Homo sapiens: one gene and its partners. The protein of the gene in region 2 purifies or fractionates together with the protein of the main gene of each other region. This does not show direct contact. Each region holds a gene or a part of one and is shown on either strand. Other genes may lie near its edges. The genes, in order: SHKBP1, GLTP, QKI and ASPSCR1.

Region 1 (5,323 bases), on a different chromosome or scaffold from region 2:
TTCTCCTCCCTCGGCCTCCCGAGTAGCGGGGATTACAGGCACGTGCCACCACACCTGGCTAATTTTTTATATTTTTGGTAGAGGTGGGGTTTCACCATGTTGGCCAGGCTGGTCTCGAACTCCTGACCTCAAGTAATCTACCCGCCTTGGCCTCCCAAAGTTCTGGGATTATAGGTGTGAGCCACCGCAGCTGGCCATTGATGTCCATTTTTATAGATTTATTGTCTGCCATCGCTGCTAGAATGTCAGCTCCACGAGGGCAGGGACTTGGCCTGTCTTGTTCATCACTGTATCCCCTATGCCTGGCACATGGTGGGTGCCCCGTAAATCGTTGCTGAATTGATGGATTCCCAAACACACACAGATTCACTCTTCCCCAGACTGATCCCCTATGGTATTCTCTCACTTCTGCAATTACAGTCCCATCCCAGGTCAATCCTCTCCGCCAGAGCTCTCTTCCTACACAATGTCCCTCCCCAGTGGAAATTCTCATCCTCCTGTCTCCACACTCCCATCTGAGCTGTCTCTCCCAGCACTGGAGCACCCCACAGAGGCTCACCTGAGATGAGGTGCTTCTCCGACAGCATGATCTTGGTGACAGGGCTGCGGTGCACAGTGAAGGTCTGGAAGAGCTGAGGCCCCGAGCCCACAGTCTCCGGGTGCTGCACGATGACCCGCACGCCCCCTGAGCTGGTGCCATAGGCGATCTCGATCCAGTTCCCACTGTCACCTGGTGAGGGGCCAAGGATGAGGAGAGGGCCTGGGCCACAGAGACAGAAACCAGGGCAGGGAGAAAGAAACAGGCACAGAACAGAGACACAGTCAGAAAGCAAGGAGAGGCCGGGCACGGTGGCTCACGCCGTAATCCCATCACTTTGGGAAGCTGAGGCGGGTGGATCGCTTGAGGTCAGGCGTTCAAGACCAGCCTGGCCAACGTGCTGAAACCCTGTCTCTAGTAAAAATACAAAAATTAGCTGGTGGTGGTAGTACGCACCTGTAATCCCAGCTACTCAGAAGGCTGAGGCATGAGAATTGCTTGAACCCAGGAGGCAGAGGTTGCAATGAGCCAAGACCACGCCACTGCACTCCAGCCTGCATGACAGAATGTGACTCTGTCTCAAAAAAAAAAAAAGAAAGAAAGAAAGAAAGAGACACAGAACAGAGACACAGTCAGAAAGCAAGGAGAGAGGGAAGGACACAAAAAGATGGTGATGAGATGTGGGAAATGGAGGAACAGGGAGACAAAGGCACAGGTCAAAGGAGGAGAGGCCCAGAGACAGAAATTGTAACAGTGAAACAGCAAATAAGAGAGGAAAGAGAAAGTAAAACAGAGAACAGAGGCCGAGGCAGGAAGATTGCTTGAGGCCAGGCGTTTGAGGCCAGCCTGGGCAACATAGTGAGACCCTCATCTCTACAAAAGATTTTTAAAAAACTAGTTGGGTGTGATGGCATTCACCTATGATCCCAGCTACTCAAGAGGCTGAAGTAGGAGGATCACTTGAGCCCAGGGGGTGAGGCTGCAGTGAGCTATGATTGCGCCACTGCACTCCAGCCTAGGTGACGAAGCGAGACTGTCTCAAAAAACAAAGAAAAATGACATAATAGTGGCATGTGGCGGGAAGGGAGATGAGGAGGAAATGAGTAAGTAAGTGAAATAAGAAAGAGGCCGGGTGCAGCAGCCCATGCCTGTAATTCCAGCACTTTGGGAGACGACGAGAGGAGAATCCCAGGAGTTCAAAACTTGCTTAGCCAACGTGGCAAAACCCTGCCTCTACTAAAAACACAAAAATTAGCTGGGCATGGTGGCAGGCACCCGTAATCCCAGCTACTTGGGAGGCTGAGTCTGGAGAATTGCTTGAACCCAGGAGGCAGAGGTTGTAGTGAGCTGAGATTGCGCCATTGCACTCCAGCCTGGGTTGAATGACAGAGCGATACTCTGTCTCAGGAAAAGACAAAAAAAAAAAAAAAGAAAGAAAGAAAAAAAAGAAATAAGAAAAGGGCCTTACAAAGAAGAAAGGTGATAATGTGTCATGAAGTTAGGTGTATTATTAACTTATTTCTGCTTTAAAAAAAAAAGAAAAGCAGCAGCAGCAGCTATGGCCAAGCACAGTGACTCAAGTCTGTATTTCCAGCACTTTGGAGGCCAAAGTGTGAGGATCACTTGAGCCCAGGAGTTCAAGAGTAGCCTGGGCAACATGGCAAAACCCTGTCTCTACAAAAAAATACAAAAATTAGACAGGTGTGGTGATGCATGCCTGTGGTTCTGCTGTTCAGGAGGTTGAGGTAGAAGAATCGCTTGAGCCCGAGTGGCGGAGGTGGCAGAGAACTCACATCATGCCACTGCACTCTAGCCTGGGCAACAGAGCAAGACCCTGTCTCTATTTTTTTTTAAAAAAGAATAATCCCTGCTTCACACCATACATAAAATTTAATTTCTGATAGAACAGACTTCCATGTAAAAACTAAACTGTAAATCTTCTAGAAGAAATTCAGGAGAAGATCTTTGTAACCTAGAATAGGTAAGGATATCTTAAGACCCAGAAAACACTAACCATTTAAAAAAATATGCTAAGTGAAAAATGCAGACACAAAAGACCATATAATGTATGATCCCATTTACAGGAATTGTCCAGAACAGGCAAATCCATAGGTATAGGAAGCATATTGAGCCTGGCCAACGTGGCGTAACCCAGTCTCTACTTAAAGTAGAAAAATTAGCCAGGCATGGTGATGCACACCTGTAATCCTCCCCTACTCAGGAAGCTGAGGCATGAGAATCGCTTGAACCCAAGAGGCAGAGATTGCAGTGAGCTGAGATCATGCCACTGCACTCCAGCCTGGGCAGCAGAGCGAGACCTTGTCTCAAACAAAAAGAGAAAGCATATTAGTGATTTCTAGAGGGTATCAGAAGTGAGAAATGTGGAGTTACTGCTAAAGATCAGGGGGTTTCTTACGGGGGTGATGAACATACTCTGGAATTTGTTCATGGTGATAGTTGTACAACCTTGTGAATATACTAAAATCCGCTGAATTGTGCACGTTCAAATGGGAAATTTTATGGTATGAGAATTACGTCTCAAAAATTAACCCATTCTGCATTTGATGTCAAGAAAACAAAACAAAAAACTGTCTCAAGTAAGAGAACTCAGGTTCATCTGCTGTAAAACCTGCATCTGTGTTGTTTTATGAACATGTGAACATCATGCCTTAATCACAAAGGTGGGAAAGAAACACAAAGATTAACTCCTAATGGTCCATTCTGCCCCTAGTGGAGAGGGTGGCCACCATCTAGCACCTAGAACGTGCTTATATACAGGGATACTCAGTAAATATTTGTTGAATGACTGGATGAGAGTTGAATCTGGCTGGGCGCGGTGGCTCACGTCTGTAATCCCAGTACTTTGGGGGGCTGAGGCGGGAGGATCATCTGAGGTCAGGAGTTCAAGACCAGCCTGGCCAACATGGTGAAACCCCATCTCTACTAAAACTACAAAAATTAGCCAGGCGTGGCAGTGGGCGCCTGTAATCCTAGCTACTTGGGAGGCTGAGGCAGGAGAATCGCTTGAACTCAGGAGGTGGAGGTTGCAGTGAGCCAAGATTGCACCACTGCACTCCAGCCTGGGCAACAGAATGAGAGTCTGTCTCAGAAAAAAAAATGAGAGAGAGTTGAATCTGCCGCCCCTCGATAAACCCCTCTGGGTCATGCTACACAAGTTGGGGGACAGCTGCAGGCTGGGGCTGGGGCTGGCAGGTGACAGCAGCAGGGGAAGCCGGGTCATAGCTTACTGGTCTTGGGGGTGAGGTAGACACTGAGGGCGGTGACCCCATCCTCCGCTGGGTCCCGATAGAGCTCGCTGACAAGGAGGTCGTTGTCTTTCATGCGCAAGGGGAACTTCTGCACATCTGGGGTGGGCAGGGAGGGTGGAGCGGGTTTGTTCCAAGTGCCCCAGCCTCTCTCCCTCCCTTCCCCTCTCCCAGGGGAGGGTCTCGGGCACCCGGGACACAGGCTGCTGCTCACCCACGTAGTAAATGGAGCCGTTGTTGCAGCCCAGGAGGAGGAAGGAGCCTGCCGCGTCATAACTGGTGATGGGCTGCACCTCCTGGACCTGGGGGTGGGGCAGGACAGGCTGCAGCCGGGAGCCCTTCCATTCCTTTCCTTCCGTGGTGACCCCTCACAGAGGATGGGCCCTCTCCTCCACCTCCAGAACCCACCCACTGCTCCCCAGCCCCGTCCACCCCAGGCCTGCCTTTGTCCCTGTCTTGTTCCCTCCCTTCCTCCCTTTGATGCATCTGTCTGTCTGACTCTTGGCCTCTCCTGGACTCTGTACTTTTTAAAGTTTTAATTTTTTAAATTTTTTGTAGAGACAGAGTCTTATTATGTTTCCCAGGCTGGCGTCAAACTCCTGGGCTCAAGCCATCCTCTTGCCTCGGCCTCCCAAAGTGCTGGGATTACGGGCGGGAGTCACTGCACCCGGCCTCCACTATGTACTTCTGACATGACTCTAATTCATCTCCATTTATCTCTCTGAGTTCCCCCATCTGCCACAGTGGTTCAGTCTGGTTTGACTCTGTCTACCCTTCTCTGTCACCTCTTTCTGATTTTCTATTTCTATTTGCCTGGTTTTCTGCCTCTCTGTCTCTTTCTCTGCCTCTGTCTGTCTTTCTCCCAAAGCCATCCTCCCACCTCAGCCTCCCAAAGTGCTGGGATTACAAGTGTGAGCCACCGAGCCAAGCCAGTTCTTGTCTTCTACAGCATCCCCCCTAACCTGCTCTCTCACCCAGTCCCAAGACAATCCTCCCTACTCCTTTTCAAACCCATTCATGCTTCATGTGGGCTCTGCAGCACCTCCTCCAGGAAGGCTTCCCTGGTGCTCCTTAGGCCTTTATCACAGACATCCCCAGGCTCTGGCCAGCTGCTGGTTCTCTGGCTTCCTCCAGGCTTAGGGGGTGGGGGTGGGGGCAGACGTGAACCCCTTCCTGGGTCTGTACAGTCTGGAAAACTGGGAAGGGGGCAGCCAGGCTGGCCAGAACTCTGACCTGCCAGTGCTTGGTGACGGCATTCCACACCCCGATGCGCCCTGTGTGGCTTGTAGCAATGAGCTGGTTCCCGACGAAGAACAAGGCCTCCACAGGCACCCCCAGATGAAAGACCCCTGCAGTGGGCAAAAAGGGCTCAGCTGGAACCCTGCCTCATGGAGGAGGAGAGGTGGGAGGAAGAACTCCAAGGACCAGAGGGTTCAGTGGGACCACAGAATCCTTGAAGGATAGAAGATTCCATCAGGGGCTGGGCACAGTGGCTCACACCTGTAATCCCAACACTTTG
Region 2 (5,323 bases):
CTGAGTAGCTTGTGCCACCATGCCTGGCTAATTTTTGTATTTTTAAAAGAGACAAGGTTTCACCATATCTCGAACTTCTGACCTCAAGAGATCTGCCTGCCTGGGCCTCCCAAAGTGCTGGGGTTACAGGCATGAGCCACCGCACTCGGCAAGTTTCCTCATTTTTAAAATGAGGCTCATAATGGACCCTTCTTCAAAGGGTTGCTGTGAGGCTTAAATAAAGTTGTATAAATAAAGGCCTAAGCACAGTTTCTGGTACCTAGTAAGTGCTCAGTGAAAAAGAAGGTATTAGGCTGGGCACCATGGCTCAGGCCTGTAATCCCAGCACTTTGGGAGGCTGTAGCGGACAAATCACCTGAGGTCAGGAGTTCAAGACCAGCCTGGCCAACATGGTGAAACCCCATCTCTACTAAAAATACAAAAATTAACTGGGTGTGGTGGTGTGTGCCTATAATTCCAGCTACTTGGGAGGCTGAGGTAAGATAATTGCTTGAACCTAGGGGGAGGGTGGAGGTTGCAGTGAGCCGAGATCATGCCACTGCACTCCAGCCTTGGTGACAGAGCAAGACTCTGTCTCAAAAATAAAATAAAATAAAATAAAATAAAATAAAAAGAAGGTATTATCATTTATGCTTATTATTATAAATTATATCATCATCACCTTTCCCAACAGACAAAGCTTTTCTTTAGAGAGGAAATCCAGAAAACAATTATTCCAATGATTAAGAAATCAAAGCAGAAGGAGAGGAAGGAAGGGAGGAGGGAGAAAAAGAATTATTGACTCATTGATTGATTGTTAGGGGTAAAATTAGCAGAAATCTCCCCATCATAAAATAATGACTTCAAATGTATTCCAGACCATTAAGACAGAGATCTCAGAAGGGAGTGAAGTAAGGAACTTGGAGGAACAGCAAGGCAGAAAATGAATCATTTCTGAACACAGGGGAAGTGTGAGTCGACTGCCTAACTGCCAGGGTGGAAAGCAGAGGCTTCTAGAAGACCCTGGAGAGGGCTGATCCACTGCAATGACTTTGAAAAGCTCAGATACAGTTAACACTCTAGCAAGAACCACAAAAAAGGCCTCCATATAAGTACCACTGTAAGTACGTAATAAAAGGAGTTAACATTCACTCTGGCAGGTTTTTACTGAAACAATGAAACCTAAGACTAGGACCCAACATTTCCATTCTTTTTTTTTTTTTTTTTTTTTTCTGAGACGGACTCTCGCTCTGTCCCAGGCTGGAGTAGTGGCGTGATCTCGACTCACTGTAACCTCCGCCTCCTGGGTCAAGCGATTCTCCTGCCTCAGCCTTCAGAGTAGCTGGGATTACAGGATTGCGCCACCACACCTGGCCAATTTTTTTTTGTATTTTTAGTAGAGACAGGGTTTTACCATGTTGGCCAGGCTGGTCTCAAACTCCTGACCTCGTGATCTACCCGCTTCGGCCCCCCAAAGTGTTGGGATTACAGGCATGAGCCACTGCGCCCGGCCCCAATATTTCCATTCTAAGAAGCTCATTGAAATAATCACATTGTCATGCCAGCCGGGAACTTCCTATCATTTCCCCTCCTCCCCTACAAGGGACATTTCTGCCCTAGAGACGACTTCCAACGTCTTCCTGTTTCCTGATGTGGTGTTGGTCTCCCCTGTTACAGGGCTAGACCTGCTGTAAAGTCCTGTGGACCACTTCCTACCTTCATGACCTGATCAAATCGCTTCACCTCCCTGCACATTGGTTTCCTCTTCTGGAAAATGGTGCCAAATTCCTCCTAAGTTCATCATGAGGATTAGAAATGAGTTACTGCCTAATTCAATGGCATATCCTGGGAGCCACTCAAAATAGAGATGATGCTAGTTATGATCACGGTCATACGTTATATTTTATAAAGCCCTTTGTCATGAATTCCTCCCATTCCTTTTCACGTGGATATAGGCTGGGCGCCCATGCTGCAGAAGCCCATTGGTGGGTCCTGGGAGGGCCTGACTTCTGCCCCAAGGGATTCACAGTGGAGGGCTGTCCCTCCAAGCATCCCTGTGCAGCAGAGGAGGGGCAAGATGAGTTAGCAAGCAACTGTAGTCTCTCCCCTCCTACTCAATCCTCGTCCTTCTGGCAGCAGAGAGGCCAAACCTCAGGCTCTGACCTCAAGGGCCAGATTTTTCTGAACACAAAGATCTAATCACCACCATCCCAGGACCGGGTGGGCGGGTGCCACTGGTCTGTATGTACTCTGGCCTTTGGACATTATAAAGGAGGCTGCTGGAGCAATTGTCAGACTTAAGCAGCCATGCAGCTGGCTCTGTGCCCTGGCAGTCATTCACCAAGTCAGGCATTGATTTTGGTGCTCCTGCCTGGACTCACCACATCTTTCCAAAGGTAGGATGGATGGCCCTAGACCTTTAGGAAGTGGGCCTTTTGCCACACAGCTGTTGGGAAACGGAGCTGCCAAAAAGAAGCCACCTCGGGGCCTCTCAAGCTCAGGCTGGCTCAGATGGATGCCAGTCTCCGTGTTTCCTTCCACTCATCTGTCCACGGTGTTCAGGGCATGGATGTCAGAGGAAGAGAATCAGACTCAAAGTGACTTCTCCCCTCTGAGCCTCAAAAACAGCCGACTCATGGGCTGTTACACACATGGACAGAAAAACACAATAGGGCCCTCCATAGCCCTCCTTCCAGATTGTTCTCTGGCCAGGTGGGATCAAGAGTGGGACCCACCAGCACGGCACCAGCACACAGCAGGTGTTCCTGAAGGCTAAAAAAGCCTCACTTACTACTTGCAAATGCATCTCCGAAGTCTGCCAGCAGTTTCAAAATTGTACAGCCATTGCAGAAAGTGTCTCTCTGGCTTCTTCCTCCAACAAGACATTATTTGTTTCATCTTCTCAGGGTCCCTCCCAGGCACACAATCTAAATCACATTCCACTAGAATCCAGCTCTCAACAGTCAATCAAAATGATAACTCACCTGCTATATTAGGAGGGTTAATACAGTTTCTTGTCTTTCTTGGGATATTCTTCACCAACCTTGTCCAACCCGCAGACCGCAGGCTGCATGTGGCCCAGGACCGCTTTGAATGTGGCCCAATACAAATTCATAAACTTTCTTAAAACATTATGAGATTTGAGTTTTGTTTTGTTTTGTTTTGGTTTTTAGCTCCTCAGCTATCATTAGCGTTAGTGTATTTCATGTGTGGCCCAAGACAATTCTTCCAGTGTGGCCCTGGGAATCCAAAAAATTGTACACCCCTGTTCTATACAAAACCAAAAATAAACAGGTATTAGCATTAACTTTAAATTTAAAAAAAAAAAAGCAGAAAATATTGTAAGGCTGTGGTAGGTGGTCCCAAATCTCAGAGGATGCTTGTTGCAGTGGGGGAGCTTCTAACTCACAGATCAAGGGGTACAGGTGGGGCTGGTTCCCAGTTAGCCTGATGTCCCAGATGAAGGAAAAGCCAGAGCTGAGGCTGGGCGCGGTAGCTCACGCCTGTAATCCCAGCACTTTGGGAGGCTGACGTGGGTGGATCATGAGGTCAGGAGTTCAAGACCAGCCTAGCCAGCATGGTGAAACCCTGTCTCTAGTGAAAATACAAAAAATTAGCCGGGCATGGTGGTGCACATCTGTAATCCCAGCTACTGGGGAGGCTGAGCCAGGAGAATCACTTGAACCCAGGACGCAGAGGTTGCAGTGAGCCGAGATCGTGCCACTGCACTCCAGCCTGGGCAATAGAGCAAGACTCTGTCTCAAAAAAAAAAAAAAAAAAAAAAAGCAAGAGTTGAGCGCCGTGGCACACGCCTATAATCCCAACTACTTATGAGGCTGAGGCAGGAGGATCACTTGAGCCCAGGAGCTGGAGGCTGCAGTGAGCTGTGATCACCCCACTGCATGCCAGTCTGGGCGATGAAGCAAGACCTTGTCTCTTAAACAAAACACACACACACACACACACACAACCAGCCAACTTGTTTGGGGCTTTTCCCACAAGACGATTTCAACACTCCAGTCATTTTCTAATTTACATTCAAATAAACAGGAGTTATGGACCAGCTTGGCGGGCTGTTTATGAGTTACACACCTCAGAGCAAACCTGCATGTCTGGTCTGTGGCACCCACACCACTTGTCATGTGGACAAGTCACCATGGTGCCAGCAGAACCACTGGAATTCCTCAAGTACCCAACCAGGCTGGCTCCACTGGGGGTCTTCTCCTTTGCCAGAGAGAAAGCCAGGACAGCAGGCATGACAGCAAGAGCACCACATAAGGAGTCCAGAGGACTGAGTTCTAGTCTGGTGCATAAGGTGTCCAGAGGCCCAAGTTCTAGTCTGGCTTTACTGGTCACTCACTGGCTGTGTGACCCTGAGCAAGTCACCTAACCTCTCTGGCCTCGGTTTCTTTGGCTGTAAAACAAGATAAATCTCTGATTCTAGGCTGCCACTGCCACCCTCCCCCAAAATGGAACAAGCACTGAACCAAAAGTGATGGAAAACCACTCTTTCTGGGTTCACTCTAGGACTATTTAATGCGTGCCGGATACCTAGAAGGCCACATTCCACAGACATCCATTTAATTAAGGTAAGAGGCATGAAGAAAAATCAACCCCAGAATTTGGATCTCAAGAACCGAGAGGTAATGAAGAATCATTACCTTCAGCTCTTCCATCTCTAGACTCTCCCTAAACAGTGAGAGCAAATAGGTATCATCTCATGCAGCACTCTAACTGACCTGGAGTGGCTGTGTTAATAAAGATGCCGAGGCTGTGTTTAGGCTCAAAGGGGAAAACAGCATCATGATTGATTAATGATGTCTGCCACAAGTACAGGCTATGAGGGGGTTATGTATTTTAATTTAGTCATGTATCTTATTTTAGTTTAGTTTAGTTGATTTATTTTGAGACGGAGTCTCACTCTGCTGCCCAGGCTGAAGTACAGTGGTGCAATCTCAGCTCACTGCAACCTCCGCCTCCCAGGTTCAAGGGATTCTTCTGCCTCAGCCTCCCGAGTAGTTGGGATTACAGGAGAATGCTAACATGCCCGACCAATTTTTTTTGTATTTTTAGTAGAGACGGAGTTTCTCCATGTTGGTCAGGCTGGTTTCCAACTCCTGACCTCAGGTGATCTGCCCGCCTCAGCCTCCCAAAGTGTTGGGATTACAGGAGTGAGCCACCATGCCTGGCCTACTCATCTATTTTAATTTGGAAAGAGAGAGAAGGGCCCAGCATCTTCAACAAGAACCCAGAAGAATGAGAATGGAATGAAAAGCAGTCATTCAGCGAAAAGTACTAGCACCGAGTGTTACACATTGAAATAACTCAGAGTCACAGAATATGA
Region 3 (5,323 bases), on a different chromosome or scaffold from region 2:
CAGCAAGTCAATGGGCTGAAATATCAGGCATGACTGGCATTTCAATCCACTCTATAAAAAAAAGGCATCAGTAATGTCTTTTTCGAGCACACCACTTTTTGTTCATGTAAAACCAAGCGTTTATATTATGATTTTAATTTCTGCCTTAAGTGAGATTCTGAATTCAGTGATTTGCTATTTATTTAACTATTCCATACTGTACTACTGAAATTAAGAGTATCTCTCATGTTTAATATGACTAGGACTCCAAAACACAAGAACTGAAAAATCTTAAGAATACAACTACAGTCATGCCTGCATAACAACATTTTGGTCAACAACGGACCACTTATACTATGTGGTCCCATAAGATTATAATGGCTATACCACACAGCCTAGGTGTGTAGTAAACGATATCATCTATGTCTGTGTAAGTACACTCTATGATGTACACCAAATGATGAAACTGCCAGACAAGGCAATTCTTAGACTGTATCCCCGTTGTTAAGCGATGCATGACTGTATTTATCTGATATTTTAAGTGATCGCAAATATTACAAAACACACACAATAATATGAATTTTATAAAGCGCTCAGACTACTTTCACTTAGAAGTTTAAAAATTTTCCAACAATTACACAAACCTGTGAGATAAAATAAATCTCAAATAAAGTTTGAGAAGTGGAGCTGATGGAGGTGACGGGCCAATGGGGTGGGACCTAAAACTCAGAATGACCTCAGTAATGTCAAATGTAAAAGTATTTGTTGAAATGTACACAACAGATTTACCCAACCAAACTGAACCTCAGTTACCAAAGTGGATCTGAATAAATTTAAGGTGCAATTATTTCAAAGGGGAACCCTTATGAGAGGCTGAAATAAAACAAAATTTAGTTTTCGGTCTTCCCTAATGCAAACTTGTCTTGCCTCTCTAAAACTGATAAAATCATTTCAAAATCTGAGGGAGCAAAAATATTTATAAAGAGAATGTTGTTAACCCCATGGGGAGAAGAACTTACCTAATACACCACTAGGTTCAATAGGATACTCAAGGATTGATGTAGCTGGTGCCAATGTGTAGGGGTACTCATAGGGTGTATAGATTAAACCAGCTTCGGGCCCTGGAGGAACTATTGCAGCAGTTGGGTGAGGAGTTCCGTTTGGCATGACAGCGGTCTGTATTTGTCTGATCAAAGGCATTATGGTAGGGCCAGCTGGCGTAGGAGTACGCAGGGCAGCTGGTGGGAGAACCGGCGCAGGCCCAGTAATGATCCTTGGAGCAGCCTGGGCTGTTGCTGCAAGAGAAAAGGCAAGGGCTGCTACAGTAAGCAAAGAAATTTAGAAAGAAGTATAGAGACAGCAGTATAAAATACGGAAAAATGAGAAGGGAGTAGGAAAAAGAAAGGAAAAGCAGGAAAGAAGAAAAATAAAAGGAAATCATTAGTACATGCGCTGATCACACAAAAATGCAAAAGCACACCAATCAAATGCAAACAGCTTTCCCTTTCCCAATGTGATTAAGAATGTGCAAAAATTAAAAAGCCATTGTAAAAAAATGAATGACACCATTAAATAGGTTATATTTAGTTCATACATTTGATATATCTAAGATTTCATAAGACTAAAGTACATGCAGAAGCACAATGAAACACTTGCATTAACAGATGTTAAAAAATAATTTGTAACCGGAGTCCACAGAAACTCAGTTTTGGTATATTTCTAAAGTACAGCTTTAGTTTCAAAGTAAAGAAAGAATAATTTTTATTGCATTTAGTCAAGTAACCACTAGGTATATATGTACATTTCCTGCATCTTTAGGAACCAACGTCACAGAAAATCTTAAAAAGCCCTACTTCTAAATTCCTATTAATGATATACTCACATTTTCATGAGTAAATTAATGTCAACAATTTGTAAAGTAACTACTTCTAAACCCACTAGAGGTTGCCTACATCTTCTAAATCTGGCTAGAACTTAAAAATTCTATGTGTTTTAAATAATCAGTAATTTAAACATGGTATGTTCATATAAATGACATGTATGAATCTTAAATTGTTTCAAAATATAAATTTCACATTATTTCATTTTAAACATAAAAAAGCTATCCTCTTACGGCTTATAAAAACATGCATAGATACGCATAAAAACAAAAATAGGACGGAAAAAGAGTTATCACCCACTGATCTCTGTGAACTCACATATGAAATCAACAGGGAAAAATACTAGAGGGAAAACATGCAAGCAAAGTGAAAGGACAGAACTCAACAGAGGGTCATTTCAGTCAGATACACTTCAAATTCACTTTTTCAAAATAAGCTTTCAATATGTTGTCTTTTGCATAAATTTAACAAGATAAGCTGCAAGCCCTACATCTGTAGTTAACCAAACAGAAAATTTCTTAAACACTTGAATTTAGAGATTGTGATTTTGTTAAAATAATGTAAGTTTATCAACCTAAAACTTCAACATGCTGACATAAAATAAAATCAAGAGTGTCCTCAATTCATGAAAGCATTAAAAATAGGACTGTCAGCCCCATATCAAGTGACAGAACAGTTATTTCAACTGTTCACTTTGTATGAACTATTATTGTGTTGCCAAAAGGAAAAAAGTCTGTAGACAAAACAACGCAGACAGCAGTAACCCTGGGCCTCAGAGCTCATTCTTACGTGATTTAATGTTGGCATCTCTGTAGGTGCCATTCAGAATCGCAAGCTCCATCAGCTGCATCTTCTTCAGGCTGTCTTCTCCTTCTGCCTATACATGGAAAACACATGAGATGAAAGCATTTGAGACTGTCCACAAATATAATAGCTATATCTACACACAAGCCTTAAAGTAAGTATCATGTGACTACAGTCACCTGTTTTAATAAGGGGAAAAAAAGATCAAGAACCAAAAGGTGCTAACATAATGGAGCCTGCTTTCTCTGTTTTCTCAGTAAAGGCATGTTGATATACAGCATATTGTATTTGTAAATTTTTTGTCAGTTACACCGATTTATTAAAGTTCCCCTAAAAAGCTTTACTTTTAAATAGAAATGAATGAAAATGTGAGATAAGACTAAACATAACATATTCTCTTCAGCATCTATCATTTTAAAATTACTTTAATTAATTTTATTGTTTTTAGATACAGGGTCTTGCTCTGTTACCCAGGCTGGAGTGCTGTGGCATGATCCTAGCTCACAGCCACCTTGAATTCCTAGGTTCGAGCCATCCTCCTACCTCAGCCTCCGAAGTAGCTGCGACTAGAGGCACGCGCCACCATGCCTGGCTAATTTTTTTTATTTTTTGTAGAGACAAGGTCTCGTTTTGTAGCCCAGGCTGGTCTCAAACTCCTGGCTTCAAGTGATCCTCCTGCTTCAGCCTCCCAAAGTGCTAAGTTTACAAGTGTGAGCCACTGCACCCAGCCAGCAACTATCATTTTGCTGAATATTCCAAAACTCAAATGTGTTCGTTAAACACACACATACACACACGCGCGTGCACATGTGCACACAAATAATTTTAAACATACAAGATTTGATTACAGAATTTAGGTAAGGAAATTTTATGCTTAATTCTTCAAAATATGAAAACTCAGTGAAATAATAACTTCTAAAAAACCGTATATTCTGCTCTCTTACACCACCATCCCTGTCTCCTTTCAATCTAATTAGCAAGTGCTATCAATGCTACAGCAATCTATCTTTAGGGTCACCATATGATTTATTGTCCAAAGCAGAAAACTTTTAAAAGCAAAAATGGGCACTAATAATAACCATGCTTCAAACCTAAATCAGGATAGTCTCTAATCATCAAAATGTTTGGCCACCCCATTTACCTTGAATTGGTCCCACTCTTTCCATTTACTGTTCCAGTTGTTTTTGGCATAGCACCCAAACTACTAAAACATGTTGCTAATGGTGTCTGTTCTCCAATCAATCTCTACACAAAGGCCAGATTAATTGCCCAAATCACAATTTTCATCATGTTTCTCAACATTCTGTCTCAAAACACTTTCATGGTTTCTTACTATCTAAAAATATAAAAAACTTTAGTTGCCTATAATCTGGTCCCAAAATATCCTCTCAAGTTAAGCCCATTAACCTACTACTTTACACACGTATGTAAGTAACATCTTAAGTCAAACCAGATTGCTCTCCACCATTCATCTCTGTGCATATTCCCACTTCCTCCATCCTAAGTGCTCCCCTGCGCACTCTCTGCCCCTCTCTCTTTCCAAATCCTACCTATCCCCATCCCCACAAACTTCAACCTAAATGCTACCTTCCTTCTCCAGGGGCCATCCCTAGATTACAGTAGATCCTCACTTAATGTGGTCAATACATTCTTTAAAACTAACTTTAAGTGAAACGACAGACAGCAGGTCCTCAAATAATGCCACTGCTTTCAACATGGTTTCATTATAACATTGATGAAAAAAGAGGCTGCAATATACTCATTTTGTTTAAAGTTGTATCTCCAAGAACCTATCGACAAAGTTAATTGCTTCTACTTCAAATTACAGTCTGTTGAGTATCACCACTCCCAAAGTAAGCTCCATGAGAATAGGGCTTATTTCTTTGTTACCACTGCCTAACCCCATGTTCCCACGGCCACCCCCAAGTTACTTACTAGAACTTATAAGTGACTGGTATGAGAAGTCTTTAACTTTATTTCCAAATCCCAAATGTCTCAGTCCAACATAAACTTTAGCCACAGTCAAAGCAAGCAGTAGATGAGGGTCCATCTATCAAAGTCTGTGTAGAGATAGAACTAACTGCCCCCCACTTTTATGTATCATCGAATCCCAGTAACTTTACATGACTTTGTGATATTTACAATGAAAGTAACACAATGCAACAATTTTCTGACATAGTCTTGTTCCTCTCTGATTCATAAAACGGGAAGGACGACCAGGACACAGGCTTCTCAGTGCTCCTTTCTATTATAGCTGTAATGACACACAAAATTCTGTTTTTGGCATTACAATGGTGAATGGTATACTATAATATATAGTAAACAGAACTGTTCAGTGAGCTTTTAGTAAATCACAAGAATTAAAGAAAAATATGAGTGAAACATAAAGACAATGTTTTGATGTGCTACTGCCAACTTTTTAAAAACCTACTTTGCAGAAGATTACAGGGAGTGGATACTGGCATGCCTGTAGAATTTGACTCCTATCAACTTGTACAAAGATGAACAAAAAGTAAGTATGATCTTAGAAAGACACAGAAATTATTTGTTAAAAACGAAATAAGTAAGCTACTATTGGAAAAGAAGAATCAAATCCATTATAATAAAACTTCAACTTATTTGCTAAAAACTAGTCATTTGAAAATTAAAACTTATCAAAA
Region 4 (5,323 bases), on a different chromosome or scaffold from region 2:
GGGGACCCGCCTTGTGCCTCTGCAGGTCATGACGTCCCGCTGTTGGGGAGCTGCCACAGGACGTGGATGGCGGGGCGTGGATGGCGGGGCGTGGATGGTGGGACGGGGATGGCGGGGCGTGGATGGCAGGGCGTGTCAGGCTCTGCAGGGCAGCAAGTGTGCTCTGGTCTGTCTTGCAGGTTTCAGAGGAGCGTGCTCGACCTTTCTCTCCAGTGGAGATTTGCCAACCTGCCCAACAATGCCAAGCTGGAGATGGTGCCCGCTTCCCGGAGCCGTGAGGGGCCTGAGAACATGGTGGGTCGTGCTCTGGGGGAGGCTGACTGTGTGGGGCACAGGATCGTTCAGCTGGCCAGGGACGGGGGACGGGACAGTGGGGGGTGCTGGGGAAGGAGGGACATGAGTCTTAGCACCAGTTCTGCCTTCCCTGGGTTGGGCCCAAACAGCTTCCTGTTTTTTGATAACTGGCAACTGAAAATGAGCATCTCATGTTTTTTTTTTTTTGAGCTGGAGTCTCGCTCTGTCGCCCAGGCTGGAGCTCAGTGGCGCAGTCTCGGCTCACTTCAAGCTCCGCCTCCCGGGTTCACACCATTCTGCCTCAGCCTCCCGAGTAGCTAGGACTACAGGTGCCCGCCACCACACCCGGCTAATTTTTGTATTTTAGTAGAGGCAGGGTTTCACCATGTTGGCCTGCTGGTCTGGAACTGCTGACCTCATGATCTACCCGCCTCGGCCTCCCAAAGTCCTCCCAAAGGATTGCAGGCGTGAGCCTCTGCGCCCCGCCCACGTCATTCTTCATGTGGAAGTTTTTCTTTCTTTCTGGGGTCAGTTGTGCCTTCCCTGGCTCAGGGTGTCAGCAGCATTCACCCACCAGCCTGACCACCTGCTCATAGAATTGCCCAGAATGTTAGAGCCGAAAGCGCTGCATGGATGCCGCAAGGGCAGCCTGTAATCCCAGCACTTTAGGAGGCCGAGGCGGGCAGATCACCTGAGGTCAGGAGTTTGGGACCAGCCGGCCAACATAATGAAACCCCGTCTCTACTAAAAATACAAAAATTAGCCGTGGGTGGTGGCGGATGCCTGTAGTCCCAGCTACTCAGCAGGCTGAGGCAGGAGAATGGCGTGAACCCGGGAGGCGGAGCTTGCAGTGAGCCGAGATTGTGCTGCCACTGCACTCCAGCCTGGGCGACAGAGTGAGACTTTGTCTCAAAAAAAAAAAAAAGAGCAGCAAACATTTACCATCTCATGTGGCTTCTGAGGGTCAGGAATCTGGGAGCAGCTTAGCTCAGTGTCTGTCCTGAGGCTGCAGTCAGGTTCGGTGGAGCTGCAATCTTTTGAAGCCCCCACTGGGACACGAGGACTGTCTCCAACACAGTTCACTCCTGTGGCGCCTGCATGTACCCACACACACCCACACACACCCCCACACACCCACATACCCGCACACCCGTACACACCCCCACACACCCCTGCACACACCCCACACACACCTGCACACCCCCGCACACACACCCCCCACACACACCCACACACACCCCTACAGCAACGTGCACACACCCCCACACCCGCACACACCCGCACACACCCCACACACCTGCACACACCCACACACCTGCGTGCACACCCCCCCACACACCTGCACACACCGCCCACACCAACATGCACACACCTCCCCCCCACACACACCCACGCACACACCTGTACACACACACCTACACATCTGCGCACATACCCGCACACACCTGCATGTAAACATGCACACACACGCACATCTGCACGCACATGCGCACACCTGCACACACCCACACACCAACATGCACACATCCACACACATACCTGCACACAACTGCACACCCCCGCACACACCCACACACACATATGCACACACGCACGCACACCTGCACATACCTGCACACTCACATGCACACACGCATGCTGGTGCAGCCCTGCCGGGGAGCCTCCAAGGCCCTCACTCCAGAGTGAATAGGAGGGTAGCCTTCTCCGTGGGGGTCAGCCTCTCCCTGGAGGCCAGGGCGGGGCAGTCACCCTCTCTGTGTCTGGAGAATCAGTCTGGGATTTAGAAGGAATAGTTGCTTTTCTTCCTAAGGAAGTTTCTCATGTCTTATACCCTCCAGGTTCGCATCGCTTTGCAGCTGGACGATGGCTCGAGGTTGCAGGACTCTTTCTGTTCAGGCCAGACCCTCTGGGAGCTTCTCAGCCATTTTCCACAGATCAGGTGAGCATCAGTGGGCTGGGGGCTCTTCCCTACCCTGTTTGCTGGGGAAGCTGCTGTGGTTACTGGGTCTGGTTCAGAGCTGGACACCCAAGCTCTGTGCTGGCCTGTGGTGCCTCTTGGCACTTTGCAGTCCTTTGTAGAGGAGGGGTGTGTGGGCTGCCGGTTCATGAGCAGCAGCCTCGGGGATGGCTGGTCACAGCTCATCGTTCTGAGTTTCCTGGGCCCAGCGGCCCAGCCTTGCCCACCTAGAAGAGCAGGAATGTGCTTCTGTCCTTGTGGGGGCCTGGTGAGCACTAAGGGGAGACGTTCGGTGCTGGGGGCAGGGCTCCCCATGCTTGATTCCCCTGGATGGGATCATAAGGTCTCTTTTTTTTAAGAGGCAGGGTCTCACTATGTTGGTCACCTAGGCTGCTCTTGAACCCATGGGCTCAAGAAATTCTCCCATCTCAGCCTCCCAAAGCGTTGAGATTACAGGTGTGAGCTCCTGTGCCCCACCAGAAAATCTTCCTAATAGTAATTGGATGGCTGGGCACAGTGGCTGGGCACAGTGGCTGGGCAAAGTGGCTTGCACTTTGGAAGGCCGAGGCTGGCGAATCGCTTGAGCTCATGAGTTCAAGACTAGCCTCGGCAACATAGTGAAACCCCTTCTCTACAAAAAATAGAAATGTTAGGCCAGGCATAGTGCATGGTGGTGCGTGCCTGTGGTCCCAGCTATGCCAGAGGCTGAGGTGGGAGGATCACTTGAGCCGTGGAGGCAGTTGCAGTGAGCCGAGATCGCACTGCTGCACTCCAGCCTGGGCAACAGAACGAGACTCTGTCTCAAAAAAATAAATAAATAAAAATAAGTAATTGATGTGTATCAGTTTCTGTCGGTTAATGGTTTAAACGTTGTTCCTGAATGTGTAAAAATTGGTGCTTTGTCAATTTGGGTCTTTTCATCGTTGGCTGGAAGTCTCTGTCCACAGTAAAAGGCTCAGCAGAATGGAAGGGACTTGGGGCTGGGGTTTGCTGTGAGCCAGGGGGTTCTCGCCCTCCCCGGGCCTCAGTTTCCTCACCTGTGCCCCGGCTGGTGTGTGGATGGGGTGAGTTCATGTCTTGAGGACCGAGCATAGGGCCTGTGGGAAGGTGACCGCGCGTCGGGCGCTGGGAAGGTGACTGTGCGTTGGGCGCGCTTGGTGGCCCCAGGGCTGGGCCTGCTCCCGTCTGACAGTAGTGCCGCGCTGCATGGCACGGGTGTTGCGTTCGTGGGTGAGAGCGCTGAGGTCTGCACGTCGGGTCTCAGTGGTCATGGGGATGGAAGCCACCCCAGTGGCTGTCGGGGTGAATGGAGGCCCCTGGAGATGGCAGCGGGTTAAGCACGAGCACGGAATTCTCCCTCCCAAAACGGAACTCAGACAACAGTGACGGAGCCTAAGAGCAAAGCCAAAGCCACGGGCAGGGGTGAGCGGGACCCGAGGCAGGAGATGACGGAGCCTAAGAGCAAAGCGAAGCCACGGGCAGGGGTGAGCGGGACCCGAGGCAGGAGGTGACAGAGCCTAAGAGCAAAGCGAAGCCACGGGCAGGGGTGAGCGGGACCCGAGGCAGGAGATGACGGAGCCTGAGAGCAAAGCGAAGCCACGGGCAGGGGTGAGCGGGACCCGAGCCAGGAGTGGCGCCGGGCAGGGAGGCAGGCAGCCCCAGGCGCTGTGTGGGCACTGGGTGAGAAGCAGGGATCCCGGCGCCCTGGCTCTGTGCTGCTTCCTGAGACGAGAGTGGCAGAGGGCAAGAAGAAAACCAAACAGCGCGGGGAACAGAAGTCAGGAAAGATGAACGTCTGGAAGGAAATGCCCCTGGGCCGGGCGGTGCCCCCGGGCGTGAACAGAATCCAGTGCTCCCACAGGCACAGGTGCTTGGTGAGGGCCGTCCTCCCTGGCTGTGCTGTCAGTCCTCAGATGGGGATGGAGGTAAGGAAATGGCCCAGAGTGGCCTGGGGCTGCCACTGGGGAGGGGCCGAGGGTGTCTGGAGAGGTGGGGCCGGCATTGTGGTAGCATAAGCCTCTTCAACAGACTTTGTAAACCTCGTGTGAAACTTAGTTTAAGAAACAACAGGCTTGGCCAGGCGTGGTGGTTCTGGAAGTGGCTTTGGAGCTGGCTTTGGTGGTGGCTGTGGGGGTGGGTTTGGGCGCTTTGGAGGAGGTTGCAGTGAGCCGAGATCGCACCATTGCACTCTAGCCTGGGTGACAAGAGCAAAACTCCATCTCAAAAAAACAAAAAAACAAAAGAAACAACAAGGCTGGGCACGGTGGCTCACACCTGTAATCGCAGCACTTTGGGAGGCTGAGGCGGGTGGATCACGAGGTCAGGAGTTCGAGACCAGCCTGGCCAATATGGTGAAACTCCATCTCTACTAAAAATACAAAAATTAGCCGGGCGTGGTGGTGGGTTCCTGTAGTCCCAGCTACTCAGGAGGCTGAGGCAGAAGAATTGCTTGAACCCAGGAGGTGGAGGTTGCAGTGAGCCAAGATTGCACTCAGCCTGGGCAACAGAGCGAGACTCTGTCTCAAAAAAAAAAAAAAAAGAAACAACAGAAGTGGCTGGGCGTGATGGCTCACGCCTGTAATTCCAACCCTTTGGGAGGCCGAGGTGGGTGGATCACCTGAGGTCAGGAGTTCGAGACCAGCCTGGCCAACATGGTGAAAACCCATCTCTACTAAAAATACAAAAATTAGCTGGGCGCAATGGCTCATGCTTGTAGTCCCAGCTACTCAGGAGGCAGGAGAATCACTTGAACCCGGGAGGCGGAGGTTGTAGTGAGCTGAGATTGCGCCACTGCACTCCAGCCTGGGTGACAAAGCAGGACTCCGTCTCAAAAAAAAAAAAAAAAACAAGAGCAAGTGGGGCAGCTCTTTCGAGACACCAGGGACAGCAGGAGGTGGTGGGGCCGTTGGTGGTAAAGCCCGGAGCCCCCAGCCTGCGGCCCTGGTCTGTGTGGCAGTGTGGGTCTGTCTGCGGGTGTGTCTGCACGTACACCTCATTTGATGAACACTCACACCTGTGGTGGAGAGTGATTTGTGGCTGACTGTTGTTGCTGGTGAATATGCTGTGGACATC

Evidence for each region.
Region 1: the proteins of GLTP (region 2) and SHKBP1 purify together in Homo sapiens (affinity purification with mass spectrometry; 2 studies listed by BioGRID and IntAct, with this or other methods). This does not show direct contact.
Region 3: the proteins of GLTP (region 2) and QKI purify together in Homo sapiens (co-immunoprecipitation; one large-scale study listed by IntAct). This does not show direct contact.
Region 4: the proteins of GLTP (region 2) and ASPSCR1 purify together in Homo sapiens (affinity purification with mass spectrometry; 2 studies listed by BioGRID and IntAct, with this or other methods). This does not show direct contact.

Annotation. Positions count from the first base shown.
Region 1 is NC_000019.10:40,582,181-40,587,503, reverse strand, and holds part of SHKBP1 (SH3KBP1-binding protein 1), read right to left. Parts: intron 5,154-5,323; coding exon 5,038-5,153; intron 4,107-5,037; coding exon 4,019-4,106; intron 3,904-4,018; coding exon 3,787-3,903; intron 761-3,786; coding exon of another isoform or gene 731-760; coding exon 560-730; intron 1-559.
Region 2 is NC_000012.12:109,869,893-109,875,215, forward strand, and holds part of GLTP (glycolipid transfer protein), read right to left. Parts: intron 1-5,323. UniProt on the Homo sapiens protein: Accelerates the intermembrane transfer of various glycolipids. Catalyzes the transfer of various glycosphingolipids between membranes but does not catalyze the transfer of phospholipids. May be involved in the intracellular translocation of glucosylceramides.
Region 3 is NC_000006.12:163,559,395-163,564,717, reverse strand, and holds part of QKI (KH domain-containing RNA-binding protein QKI), read right to left. Parts: intron 2,737-5,323; coding exon 2,649-2,736; intron 1,299-2,648; coding exon 999-1,298; coding exon of another isoform or gene 973-998; exon of another isoform or gene 52-972; coding exon of another isoform or gene 8-51; exon of another isoform or gene 1-7. UniProt on the Homo sapiens protein: RNA reader protein, which recognizes and binds specific RNAs, thereby regulating RNA metabolic processes, such as pre-mRNA splicing, circular RNA (circRNA) formation, mRNA export, mRNA stability and/or translation.
Region 4 is NC_000017.11:81,983,375-81,988,697, forward strand, and holds part of ASPSCR1 (tether containing UBX domain for GLUT4), read left to right. Parts: intron 1-179; coding exon 180-294; intron 295-2,132; coding exon 2,133-2,233; intron 2,234-5,323. UniProt on the Homo sapiens protein: Tethering protein that sequesters GLUT4-containing vesicles in the cytoplasm in the absence of insulin. Modulates the amount of GLUT4 that is available at the cell surface. Enhances VCP methylation catalyzed by VCPKMT.